Homo sapiens: one gene and its partner. The protein of the gene in region 2 interacts with the protein of the main gene of each other region in a biochemical or structural test. Each region holds a gene or a part of one and is shown on either strand. Other genes may lie near its edges.

Evidence for each region. Proteins that work in one complex are often made in the same cells at the same time.
Region 1: the proteins of PRKAR2A (region 2) and AKAP6 interact in a test that uses a peptide from one of them, tested with the Homo sapiens proteins (one study listed by BioGRID).

Annotation. Positions count from the first base shown.
Region 1 is NC_000014.9:32,542,298-32,545,797, reverse strand, and holds part of AKAP6 (A-kinase anchor protein 6), read right to left. Parts: intron 569-3,500; coding exon 1-568. UniProt on the Homo sapiens protein: Binds to type II regulatory subunits of protein kinase A and anchors/targets them to the nuclear membrane or sarcoplasmic reticulum. May act as an adapter for assembling multiprotein complexes.
Region 2 is NC_000003.12:48,837,875-48,841,374, forward strand, and holds part of PRKAR2A (cAMP-dependent protein kinase type II-alpha regulatory subunit), read right to left. Parts: intron 1-3,500. UniProt on the Homo sapiens protein: Regulatory subunit of the cAMP-dependent protein kinases involved in cAMP signaling in cells. Type II regulatory chains mediate membrane association by binding to anchoring proteins, including the MAP2 kinase.

The DNA.
Region 1 (3,500 bases), on a different chromosome or scaffold from region 2:
CCTCGTTATAATTAAAGCAATCTCTGATGGTTCGTTTGGGGGTTGCATTTTCACAAGGAACAGGCTGCTGATTCTTTGCATCATGATGGGAGGAGGAACTGGATTCTTGCTGCACAGTCTCAGAGGAGGGTTGAGCAGCATTTGTCAGAGCTTCTCCTGAAGATGATGACACCCCCAGTGTTAAGCCTGGTTGCTCTTCGACTGCAGAAGCATTGTCTTCCTCACATCCACCTTTGTCGTCTACTGAGAGAGATACTTGAGATACCTCCTCAGTAACTGCTTCACTGCCATTGGTAGAGATAGAGTCAGCAGCTACCGTAAGTAAACCAACACTTCGGATAAGCTCAGGAAACTCCTTTTCCATCTCACTGTAGCTCCAAGAGTCAAAGGGTTTGGTTTTGACTTGGCTAGAGGTCATGTCACCTAGCCCACTGAGCAAATCCTCACTTGGACTGTAGTCAGACAGTTCGAATGCAGTAATGCCACAATCCAGAGACAAGTAATTTTGAGAACATTTGATGGTTAATTGTCCTGAGTCATCCACTTCTGTTAGAGAATCAAGCCGGCCCTGAAACAGACAATGGCAATGGTTTCAGTAAATGCAACATCAATTACAACATCAGCTGCTATGTAAATGAAATTGCAGTACAGGGCACTATAAAGGTCAAATGTATTGGTCCCTATTGCTTGTGGTTTGACATACACAAAGGGATATTAATCAATTACCACATTGCTTTATATAGTATCTTGTTCTTAAACACCTGAAGATTTTTCACTAATCTGGAGTATACAGCCTTAACAGAAATGTCAAGAGCAAGCCAAAAAAATCCATTCTTGACTTAATTTTCAACTTAAAAATAATATATTATTCATTTAATAAGAATTTCATAAACAAAGCCTTAAGTAATACAATTTCTGGGATCAAAATAATGTAAAAGTAAAATCTCCACGAATGTCTGTTTTGCTTTTTGCTATCATTCCAGTACCTACCACAGTGGCTAACTCATGGTAGATGCTCAATAAATATTTTTAAGTAGAATAATTAATTATAATAAGCCAGTTGTGTTAAACATATATTGATGAATCAAAGGAAGGTAAACTACTGAATTTGCAAATACATAATAGTTCAAGACCAGTTTCTGTTTGGCCCCACCCTTTTGAAGGAGAAAATTAATGAATGTCCAAACTTTATCATTAGAGATAGCATCAGCTCCTCCCTCTGCATGTTTTTCTCCCCAAGTCCTGCTCCCACTGGTGTTTGCGAGCTGTTAAGTGCCCATCTTTCTTACTATTCATAATTCTGGATAGGCTGATTTGATTTAAAACTCCCTCACACTAAAAAAACAGCATTACGATTAACTATTTTTAATTTGTTAAATCTTTAATTCTGTAATTAAGGCTTTTGTCCCATTACTAATGCAGTTTCTGATTTCATACAACAAATGGGAAGATTTTCACTGATGATTTGTTTGGGGTAGAAGAGCCCTGGGAACTATCCTATTTTGCCTACTGGCTAAATAACAGACTGATCTAACCTAGCCCCCTTAGGAAATGAAAAAAGAAAACTGAAAAGTGAAGGGTTGTTACATCCCCAGATCTCCTTTTTTTCTGGAGGAAGAACTGTGGTGAGCCAATTGAAGCTGGATTCCATGTGGCTGCTGGACCCTGTGATCCTTTCAACCAGGTTTTCCCAGATCTGGCTTCTCCAGGATCTTATATCTGGTTTTACTGCTCATTTGTTTGTTTTTGTTTTTGGAATGTTCTCTCCCTTCAGACCTTCACCCTGCCTTTATCTCCTACTCCACTCACTCTCATTCCATAACATCTAGATAAACAGACAAAAAGCCTTATTTAACTTTTCTAAGCCTCAGAGTCCTCATCTATAAATGATGATGGTTGATTACTACAATTACTTTTTCATTTAATCCTTAAAATTTTCTTCTGCCGTCTGTACTATTGTCCCTTTCTTACATAAGAGTAGCTTGGACCAAAAGATGACACCGGCCCTGGATAGAGGCTGTCCCCAAAGTCTGTATTCTGCCCATTAGATATTACTTTAAACTGGCATGCCCCCACCTCCAATTCGTTTTCCACACTGCCACCAGAATAACCTACACAAATTGCAAATCTGTTACTTCTTTGTTTAAAGTCCTTTAGAAGCATCCTGTTGTTGTTAAGTTAAAAATCCAAACTTTTCCTCAAAAAGGCTAAAAATTGAACTACCAATCCCACTAATAGGTATATATCCAAAGAAAAGGAAATCAGCATGTCAAAGAGATATCTGAACTCCCATGTTTATTACAGCACTATTCATGATAGCCAAGATATGGAATCAACCTCAGTGTCCATCAGCAGGTGAATGGATAAAGAAAATGTGGCATATATCCACAATGGAATACTATTTTGCCTTCAAAAAGAAGGAAATCCTGTCATTTGTGACAACATGTATGAGCTTGAAGGACATTATGTTAAGTGAAATAAGCAAGGCACAGAAAGACAAATACCACATGTTCTCACTCATATGTGGAAGCTAAAAAAGTTGAACTCAGAGAAGCCAAAAGCAGAATAGTAGTTACTAGAGGTTGGGAAAGGTAGCGGGTGGGAATAGCTAGAGGCTGGTTAATGGATACAAAATTACAGCTAGATAGGAGGAATAAGTTCTGGTTTCTATAGCAGGGTCAGATGACTGTAATTAAAAGCAATTTATTCTACATTTTCAAATAGCTAGAAGAGTGGATTTTGAATGTTCCCAACATGAAGACACAATAAATGTTTGAAGTGACAGGTATGTTAATTTCCCTGATTTGATCATTGCATTGTGTGCATGTATCAAAATATTACACTGTACCCTATAAATATGTGCAGTCATGTGTCAATTAAAAATAATAAAAACAAAAAATGACACACTTCAATGCAAAGATATATTGCTTTAATATTTGAAGATCTTCCAAGTATATGACTGAAGACAGAAATCAACGATGTCATAGATAAGTATTTTTAAAACACAACCAAAACCCTTTCAAGGCCAGGCCCAAAGAGGCCTTTCTTATGCTATTCTCCCCTCACTGGCCACACGCGGCCACAGTATCCTGCTTTCACTTTCTGAAAATACCATGTTCCCTCCTTCCTCAAGGCCTTGGCACATGCTGCTTGCCCTGCCTGGAAAGCTTCCAACCTATACCCCTTAACTAGTTGACTCTTCCTTATCACTCAGATTTCAGCTTAAGTTTCACTTTTTCAAGATTCCAGATCCACATGTAAGTCAGAATATTTTATTGTAAGCCCTGCTTTCTCTTTAAGCATTGATCTCAATTTATAAATAAATACTATTGTGATTATCTGATCAATTTGTTTTTCCCACTAGTTTGTAAGTACTATGACAGTATAAATCACACAGAAAATGGTTGTCTTACCAGGGTACTCGTAGCACATAGCATAGTGATCTGCACACAGAATGCACATATGTTGAATGAATGAATGAATGAATGACAACATTTTAG
Region 2 (3,500 bases):
CAGCGGCAAAAGACCACATATTGGCTGGGCACGGTGGCTAACGCCTGGAATCCCAGCACTTTGGGAGGCTGAGGCAGGCGGATCACAAGGTCAGGAGATCGAGACCATCCTGGCTAACACAGGGAAACCCCATCTCCACTAAAAATACAAAAAATTAGCCGGGTGTGGTGGCGGGCGCCTGTAGTCCCAGCTACTCGGGAGGCTGAGGCAGGAGAATGGCGTGAACCCAGGAGGCGGAGCTTGCAGTGAGCTGAGATCACGCCACTGCACTCCAGCCTGGGCGACAGAGCAAGACTCCGCTCAAAAAAAAACAACAACAACACATATTATATGATTCCATTTATATGAAATATGCAGGATAGGCAAATGGTAGAGACAAAAGTAGATTAGAGGATGCCTAGGGATGAGGGGAATGAGGGTGTTGGTGAGGTGATGACTAAAGTGTATGGTGACCGGGCGCAGTGGCTCACACCTGTAATCCCAGCACTTTGGGAGGCCGTGGTGGACAGATCACCTGAGGTTGGGAGTTCGAGACCAGCCTGGCCATCATGGTGAAACCCCATCTCTACTAAAAATACAAAAATTAGCTGGGCATGGTGGCACATGCCGGTAATCCCAGCTACTTAGGAGACTGAGGCACAAGAATTGCTTGAACCCAGGAGGGAGAGATTGTAGTGAGCTGAGATCTCACCACTGCACTCCAGCCTGAGCAACAGAGAGAGACTCCATCTTTAAAAAAAAAAAAGAAAAAAGAAAAGAAAAACAAAACAGTATATGGGACTTTTTTTGGAGTGAGGAAAAATGTTCTAAAAATTGTTATGGCGCCAGGCGCGATGGCTCATGCCTGTAATCTCAGCACTTTGGGAGGCCGAGGCAGGCGGATCACGAGGTCAGGAGATCGAGACCATCCCGGCTAACACGGTGAAACCCTGTCTCTACTAAAAAAAAAAATACAAAAAATTAGCTAGGCATGGTGGTGGGCGCCTGTAGTCCCAGCTACTCGGGAGGCTGAGGCAGAAGAATGGCACGAACCTGGGAGGTGGAGCTTGCAGTCAGCCGAGATCGCGCCACTGCACTCCAGCCTGGGCGACAGAGCAAGACTCCGTCTCAAAAAAAAAAATTGTTATGGTTGGTCAGGTGCAGTGGCTCATGCCTGTAATCCCAACACTTTGGGAGGCCGAGGCAGACAGATCACCTGAGGTCAGGAGTTCAAGACCAGCCTGGCCAACATGATGAAACCCCATCTCTACTAAAAACACAAACATTAGCCGGGCGTGGTGACACGCGCCTGTAATCCTGGCTACTCGGGAGGCTGGGGCAGGAGAATTGCTTCAACCCGGGAGGCAGAGGTTGCAGTGAGCCAAGATCACATCATTGCATTCCAGCCTGGACAACAAGAGCAAAATTCCGTCTAAAAAAAAAAAAAAAATTATTATGGTGACGGCTGCACACAGATATGAAAAACCAATTATACATTCTAAATAGTTGACTTGTATGTGAAGCATATCTCTATAAAGCTGTTACCTAAAAAAAAAAAAAAAAAATGCTGAGAGACCGGCAAGTATAAATGCTTTATGGTAATTACAGAAGTGAAACAATTCTGAATGTCGATTTATTGTTTGTATGCAGCTACAGTAATTTATTAATAAGTTTATACTCTTCAGGCATCTCTCAACATTAAATACGCATTATAATACTTTATACTTTGAAGTTATGTCCTGTTTGATATTAAAGCTGTTATTAAAATAACAGCTAGTAAGTTTTTTGACTCTTTCCAATAGGATACAATTTTATAAACTGAATTGGTGGTTAGTCACAAGGACCTCACTAAGCAAAGCTTCCTTGCTATATACAGTTATTACATATGATACTTCTTGTTCTTTTTTTTATTGGCTCTGGAGTTGAAACATATCCTATTTCTAATTTAAGTAGTGTAGACTTATTCTAATGTCATTGGGTATACAATTCATTTTTTCTTCCTTTTTAAATTGTGGTAAGATGTACATAAAATGTGCCACTTCACCATTTTAAGTGTACAATTCAGTGTCATTAAGTACATACATTGTGCAACCATCACCATTATCCAACTTCAGAACTTTTTCATTATCCCAAACTGAAACTCTGTACCTATTAAACAATAACACCCTATTACACCTTCCCCCAAGCCCTCGGTTAGCTCTCTTCTACTTTCTGTCCCTATGAATTTAGCTACTCTGGTTACCTTCTGTAAGTGGAATCATACATTATTTGTCCTTTTGTATCTGGCTCATTTCATTTAGGATAATATTTTCAATGCTGTAACATGAATAAGAATTTCATTCCTTCTTAAGGATGGTCAGGTATGGTGGCTCATGCCTGTAATCCCATCACTTTGGGAAGTCGAGGCGGGACGGGTGGATCACCTGAGGTTGGGAGTTTGAGACCAGCCTGGCTAACATGGTGAAACCCCGTCTCTACTAAAAATACAAAAACTAGCCAGGCATGGTGGCACACGCCTGTAATCCCAGCTACTCGGGAGGCTGAGGCAAGTGAACTGCTTGAACCCAGGAGGTGGAGGTTGCAGTGAGCAGGATCGTGCCACTGCACTCCAGCCTGGGAGACAGAGCAACACTCGGTCTTATGTATATATATACCATATTTTGTTTATCCATTCATTTATGGATGTATACCTGGATACCTGGTTTGTTTTCACCTTTTTTTTTTTTTTTTTTTTTTTTTTTGAGACGGAGTCTCACTCTCTCGCCCAGGCTGGAGTGCAGTGGCACAATCTCGGCTCACTGCAAGCTCTGCCTCCTGGGTTCACGCCATTCTCCTGCCTCAGCCTCCCGAGTAGCTGGGACTACAGGCACCCGCCACCACGCCCGGCTTATATTTTGTATTTTTAGTAGAGACGGAATTTCACTGTGTTAGCCAGGATGGTCTCAATCTCCTGACCTCGTGATCCGCCCACCTCGGCCTCCCAAAGTGCTGGGATTACAGGCATGAGCCACAGGGCCTGGCCCACCTTTTTTTTTTTTTTTTTTTTTGAGACAGTTTCGCTCTTGTTGCCCAGGCTGGAGTGCAATGGCGTGATCTCCGCTCACTGAAACCTCCACCTCCTGGGTTCAAAAGATTCTCCTGCCTCAGCCTCCCGAGTAGCTGGGATTACAGGCGCACACCACCACACCCAGCTAATTTTTTTTTTTTAATTTAGTAGAGATGGGGTTTTACCATATTAGTCAGGCTGGTCTCAAACTCCTGACCTCAGGTGATCCGCCCGCCTCGGCCCCCCAGTGCTGGGATTACAGGCACGTGCCATGTTTTCACCTTTTGACTACTGTAAATAATGCTGCAATGAGCACTGGAGTATAACTATCTGTTTAACTCCCTGCTTAAAATTATTTTGGGTAGGCCGGGAACGGTGGCTCACACCTGTAATCCCAGCACTTTGGGAGGCTGAGGCAGGCAGATCACAAGGTCAGGAGTTTGAGACCAGCCTGGTCAATATGGTGAAACACCAT